2 linked regions of the Homo sapiens genome follow. The protein of the gene in region 1 purifies or fractionates together with the protein of each later gene. This does not show direct contact. Each region holds a gene or a part of one and is shown on either strand. Other genes may lie near its edges.

The links. Proteins that work in one complex are often made in the same cells at the same time.
Region 2: the proteins of ADAT1 (region 1) and QTRT2 fractionate together in Homo sapiens (co-fractionation; one large-scale study listed by BioGRID). This does not show direct contact.

Annotation. Positions count from the first base shown.
Region 1 is NC_000016.10:75,606,282-75,609,781, forward strand, and holds part of ADAT1 (tRNA-specific adenosine deaminase 1), read right to left. Parts: intron 2,708-3,500; coding exon 2,562-2,707; intron 2,043-2,561; coding exon 1,943-2,042; intron 1-1,942. UniProt on the Homo sapiens protein: Specifically deaminates adenosine-37 to inosine in tRNA-Ala.
Region 2 is NC_000003.12:114,066,737-114,070,236, reverse strand, and holds part of QTRT2 (queuine tRNA-ribosyltransferase accessory subunit 2), read right to left. Parts: intron 2,251-3,500; coding exon 2,174-2,250; intron 1-2,173. UniProt on the Homo sapiens protein: Non-catalytic subunit of the queuine tRNA-ribosyltransferase (TGT) that catalyzes the base-exchange of a guanine (G) residue with queuine (Q) at position 34 (anticodon wobble position) in tRNAs with GU(N) anticodons (tRNA-Asp, -Asn, -His and -Tyr), resulting in the hypermodified nucleoside queuosine (7-(((4,5-cis-dihydroxy-2-cyclopenten-1-yl)amino)methyl)-7-deazaguanosine).

The DNA.
Region 1 (3,500 bases):
TAGCATCTGTGATAGCCAAACTCCAGAATGGTCCCCAGTGATTCTTGCCTCCTGGTATTCATGCCCCTTAGCAATCCCCTCCCATACGTAATAGGGCTGATCTGAATAACCATTAAGATATTACAGATAGGCTCTGGCTTCTGAGGCTAGGTCATAAAAGACACTGTGGCTTCTGCTTTGCTTTCTTGGATTGCCTGTTCTGTGGGGAGCCAGCCACTGAGTCGTGAAGCTGAATACTCTGGTAGCCTTGTGGAGAGGTCCTTGTTATAAGGAACTGAAGCCTCCTGCCAACAGCTGACACTGATCTGTCAGCCATGCAAGGTAACCATTTTGGAACAGGATCCTTGAGCCCCCGTCAAGTCTTCAGATGACTGCAGCCCTGGCTGCCATAATGGACTGCAATTTCATAAATTGCTGAGCTAAGCTAATTACTTAGCTAAGCTCCTCAATTCCAGACCCACATAACTATGTGAAATAATAAATGTATATTGTTGTTTTAAGCTGTTATTTTGGGGGTAATCTGTTACATAGAAACAGATAACTAACATACATTTAAGGAATAAATCTAATACAAGATGTGAAAGATTTATATAAAGCTATAAAACTTGCTGAAATATATGTAAGAAGACCTCAATAAGTGAACACTCAAAAACTACCAGTTATAGGCAGCACATGGTGGCTCACGCCTGTAATTCCAGTACTTTGGGAGGCTGAGGTGGGCAGATCACAAGGTCAGGAATTCAAGACCAGCCTGGCCAACATAGTGAAACCCCGTCTCTACTAAAAATGCAAAAAAAAATTAGCTGGGCGTGGTGGCGGGCATCTGTAGTCCCAGCTACTTGCGAGGCTGTAGAGAGATAAATGGCTAATAAGTACATAAAAAGATGCTCAACACCGTTTGTCATTAGGGAAATGTAAATGCAAATAAAAACTGTAATGAGGCCGGGTGAGATGGCTCTCACCTGTAATCCCAGCATTTTGGGAGGTTGAGGCGGGTGGATCACTTGAGGTCAGGAGTTTGAGACCAGCCTGGCCAACATGGCGAAACCCCTCTCTACTAAAAATACAAGAATTAGCCGGTGTGGTAGAACATGCCTACAGTCCCAGCTACTAGGAAGGCTGAGGCAGGAGAATCGCTTGAACCCCAGGGGCGGAGGTTGCAGTGAGCCAAGATTACGCCACTGAACTCCAGCCCAGGTGACAGAGCAAGACTCTATCTCAAAAAAAAAAAAAAAAGACTGTAATGAGATACCATTTCATACCCACTAGAATGACTACAATAAAAAAGACAATAACAAGTGTTGTAAAGGATTCAGGATAATTGGAACTCTAATACATTGTTGGTAGAACGTAAAATGGTACAGCTGCTATGGAAAACAGTTTAGCAGTTCCTCAAAAAAGTTAAACATAACAATTACCATATGACCCAGTAACACTACTCCTAGGTATACCCAAGAAAATTGAAAACATATGGCCATGCAAAAAGTGGTACATGAAATGTTCATAGTTCTACACAGCAGCACTATTCACAATAGCCAAAGAGTGAAACAACCCAAACGTCCATTCATGAACGAATGGCAAACAAAATGTGGTATATCCACACAATGGGATATTATTCAAGTCATGAATAGTAATGAAGTACTGATACAGCTACCTCAGGATGTACCTCCAAAACACTATGCTAAGTGAAAGAAGCCAGATACAAAAGGTCATATACTGTAGGATTCCAATGATAGAAAATGTCCAGACTAGACAAATCCACGGAGACAGGAAGTAAATTAAGTAAATTAGAGGTTTCCAAGGGATGAGGAGAGGGAGGGATAGGTAGTGACTGCTAATGGGTATGGTTGTTCTTTTTGGGGTAATAAAAATGTTCTAGAATTAGATAGTGGTAGAGTGTGAGTTCACAGCCACCATCTCCTCCTGCCCCAATATGCTGTACCTTGCCTGAAGGCTTCCAATTGTTTTCTTTGTTGTTCCCTGTGGAAAGCCATTGGCAGTAACATCCAAAGGCTGCTCAGGAACTGCACTCCAGCTGATGGCTATGAAAAGATAAGATTCTAGGGTTAAAACTGCTCAATTTCTTGTGAAAGTCAGAAGTATTTTAATAAAAATATTTCTCTGACTCTACAGACCCATGAGAGCTGGATATGATGTCACAGACAATGACTGCTATTGGATGCTTGGCCTCCAGGGTACAGTAGTCTAAGTGGTTCATAATTCATTATTATTATGATAGCTAACAATCACTGAGCATTTATTATTTGCTGGGCACAGAGTAAATGCATTAAACAGAATTTCTCACTGAATCTTCCCAATAACCCTGATAAATGATATTCTTCTAATCTGAAGACAAAGAAATTGAGGCCAAGGGAGGGTAAATAACATGCCGGGGGTCACAAGAGCATAAACGTGACCCACTATGGGTGTCTCTAAAGCCCACACTACCGGCCACTAGAGTGGTGAACTACCTTCCTAGGCTGGGAGGATGCCGACCCTCTGGGGCCACTCTCAGTCAGGGGAGCAGTTACTCCAGGGCAGGTCTAACCTGGATCTCTTACCTGCCCCACAAGGAACAAGTCGACCTGGGCTATCAGCCCTTTTTGCCTGCACCGCACTGCGGCTCTGTTCAAATAGTAAATCTGACTGCAGTATTTTTAATTCTTGAACTCCGAAGCCTTTTGGTAAAGCAGACACATTCTGACACCTAAATACAAGGGAAAATGCATTCAGTTTAGGTGCATGCCTAGAGAAAACAGTATCTAGGATTGTGGCTCACATCATCACCCCTGAGCCTTAGCAGGTGTGGGGATTTGTTTATTTATTTGGGCAGACAGTGTTTCAGAATAGAATCAAGATTGTAAGCACCTCATGGCTGGAAGAAGATCCTTCTCCCTCAATCTGCAGGGATAACTAAGAATCAAGTCAACACCCTTCAGGGATGTAACACCAAACTCCATTCCTGATATAGGCTTTGAGAAACTTGAAAAGTTTAAGCAGAAACATTAATGTGTTGGCACCTGCTTCCTAGGGAATCCTTCAAACACACCAAAACCCAAAATTATCCTATAATATAAAAGCTTCATTTTTTTCTCTTGTATCTTTGAACAAACTAGATGCCAACATGATGCTGGTCTAGAATGAAGCAGATAGCAACTGCAAGTACCAGAATAGGAAAAACAGAAAACATCCCAGGCACAGTGCCTAGGGTTGGCTTTTTTAAAAAAAAACAAAAAACCAACATCTTTATAGGGATATAGTTCACATACCATAAAATGTACTCATTTAAAGTGGATAATTCAATTGTTTTTAGTATATTCATAGAACTGTACAACTATCATGGTAATGTAATTTAAGGAATTTTCATCACCCCAGAAAGAAACCTCGTACCTATTAGCATTCACTCTCTATTCCCTGGTAACCACTTAAATTTTTTGTTTTTTTGAGATAGGGTCTCTGTTGCTCAGACTGGAGTGCAGTCACATGATCTCGGCTCACTG
Region 2 (3,500 bases), on another chromosome or scaffold:
ATGTGAGACATCTTACATATAGGGCAAGTGTAATAATCATGTCAGAGTATTTAAGTATCCATCACCTCAAGTATTTATTATTTCTAGGTGCTGGAACTTCTACTTCTTTGCCTGGCAAAATACTACGTGTCCATTGAGACACTGAGTTCACATATTAATCTGATCTCCAAACCTCCTGGACATAATCGATCACTCACTCCTCTATGCTCTTACATCAATTTGTATTTATTTCTTTATAGAAATGATAGCACTTATTACACCATTCTTTATTTGTCTGACTAGAGTATCCCAATTCATGTATGTATCCCAAAAGCACAGTCTAGGGCCCTATACATTTTTAATATCTAGTGTTTACTAGACTGAGTTAGATATAGAATTAAAGACTTAAATCTCCTAGTTCAAGAGAGTATATATTAGTAATATTCTATCTTTGAGCTAAAAGCAAAACTACCATTCAACCCAGCAATCCCGTTACTGGGCATATACCCAGAGCAATATAAATCATTCCGCCATAAGGACACATGCATGCAAATGTACATTGCAGCACTATTCACAATAGCAAAGACATGCAATCAACCTAAATGTCCATCAATGATAGATTGGATAAAGAAAATGTGGTACATATATACCATGGGATATTATACAGCCATAAAAAAGAATGAGGTCACGTCTTTTGCAGGAACATAGATGGAACTGGAGGCCATTGTCCCTAGCAAACAAATGCAGGAACAGAAAATCAAATACCACATGTTCTCACTTATAAGTGGGGGCTAAATGATGAGAACACATGGACACAAAGAAGGGAACAACAGACACTGGGGTCTACTTGTGAGTGAAGGGTGAAAGGAGGGAGAGAAGGATAAAAGGTAACTATTGGGTACTAGGCTTAATACCTCAGTGATGAAATAATCTGTACAACAAACCCCCATGACACAAATTTACCTATGTAACAATGTTTACACGTACCCCCGAAACAAAAATAAAAGTTAAAAAAAGGGAAAAAAAAATTCTATCTTTGGTTACCCTACAGATCCCTCTTCTCAGATCAACAAGGACATAGATGGCAGGCCAACATATAGTCGTTTTATTTTATACTAAGGCATCAGAATTACTGGTTAAATGATTCCTCTCTCCCTTACAATTTGGGTAGAAAATGGAAGTCAAAGTATTTTTTTTTTTTTTTGAGACAGAGTCTCGCTCTATCACCCAGGCTAGAATGCAATGCACTGGTGCGACTTTGGCTCACTGCCACCTCTGCCTCCCAGGTTCAAGTGATTCTCTTGCCTCCACCTCCCAAGTAGCTGGGATTATAGGCGTGTGCCACCACACCTGGCTAATTTTTGTATCTGTAGTAGAGATGGGGTTTTGCCATGTTGGACAGGCTGATCTCGAACTCCTGAGGCTCAAGCCATCTACCCACCTTGGCCTACCAAAGTGCTGGGATTACATGCATGAGCCACCATACCCAGCCAAAGTATTTTCTCTAGAATTCAAACTACAAAATAAATAGAAACTTAAAACAGGAGAATGAGTAAAAACAGTGTTCTGAGGGGCACAATTAATAAATATTGCTGACATTAATAAAGTGAGTGCAGGAAAAGTATTTGCGTTTGTAAAGTAGCAGTACACACTGAAGCTTTGCCAGAATGCTGTCCTCAGGGATAATGCCAATGGGGCCACCTCTCAGCCTAACACTTTTAATGAGGTGCTTTTGATACTGTTCTTCACTAGACAAAATCTCTGGCTGTAGACCCAGCAGACAATATTATATTGAGATTCTACTATATATAGTTATACATGTGATAATACTCATCAGCAACTTTCCCCACTCTTCCTGAAGTTGTTAAAAATCCAACAAAGCATGGCGCCGAAAGACTATCGTTTTCCCCTATCATAGCAATTTCTTTTTTTGGCATGTATTTGACCCTCCTCTACCCTCAAATTTTTTTGCAACAATGAAAATGCTGAGGATACAGTGTTCTTCATCTTAACCTCATCCTTAGGCAGCCCTACTCTAAGTCTTATAAACCATCCCATCCCACTATAATTATCGAAATAAGGAAAAGGTATAAGGGATCATCCCAGACAGTGGGATCTGAGCATCTGAGGGATACACCATAGGCTGACTTCCTGGGACAAAGCTGCAGCCTTGGAGACCCTTCTGAAAACACACCTTGTTTGTTACATAACCAGCCGGGCAGGGGCTGACTGGATCGTGCAGGGAGCAGTACAAGAGTGATTCTGGCATGCCTGTATAAACACAAAAAAGAACCCTTGAAAGTGCTTACATCAACAATGACACTGTATTATAGCAGGGAGCAGCTTCGCAATGTGTACTGCTGAATAAAGCAACTCTAAACACTGTCAATAGGTTGTATCTGAACTTGGAATTAGAGAAGGCCTATCAATATGTATAAAAAGATTACTAATCTAAAGAAAGAAATATAAAGCTTCACGTCTAATAAATAGGTACTGAGCTGCTACAAAGGAAAGATGTATCTTAAAGCACAATATACAATGAAAGTATTTAGTGACATGTTGATCTCATTTGACTTTACTTAAAGAATTTACTATCAAATATGCTTATTCCAGGTACCATCCAAGGGGAACTAGCTACCGCAAAGATAAAATGATATGCCCACAAAGTGATCTCACTAATAATAAATCTCAATAATATCATGGGTCCCTAGGGGCAGAATTTTAGAGAAGCTATAGGATGCTGCAAATGGATCCCATTCTTAGTAAGTTTCATTGATTCACGATGACAGTTTCTTAAGTTCTTCAGTCAAAAAGACAATCATTTTTTAAAAAATGCAAAAAAAGTTTAGTAAACCATGTGCCTAAATATCATATGCTAGCCCACATTTTCGTTAAGGAAAATAAAACAGGATTCCAGTGAAAAAAAAGCAAGTGTAAAACCTCTGCAGTTTTTTCACTTTATTTTCCATAATTTCAATTATTACAATTATCTCTAGAAAGCCTACATTAGCTATTTTCATTTAATTATATGCTTGTATACTTTAAAGCTGGTTATTAAAATTGGGCTCAGGTCAAGGAGAATGATATTCCATAAATTCCTCTACTAAAATACAGGGCTTTGTGATAACCAACAGGACATCATGCAGCTGCTCTCAGAAGCAGAAGACTGAATAACCAATGGAAACAGGATTTTCATTCAAGTGAGTCCTAGATACCAGAAAAAGCGTTAGGAGAAAGCGGTGTATAGAAGAACTGATGTTCTAGCTGTCACTGCTAAGCTTTTCCTATAAATAAATAGATGCATACATCTGCATATAAAATCCTATTTCTGGAATAAAGGATAATATTAACATATCAGAATACAGCCATATACAAACGCTTCATCCTCCCCTGCATGTTTGAGGTTCAAGCATGATGAGACTACTTTGGAGCTCACGAATGCCCCATGCAAGTTCTCACCGCTGAGTCAGATACTCAGTGCCTGCAGCATCTGCCCCACACCTGTCTGGGCTCCCACTCCT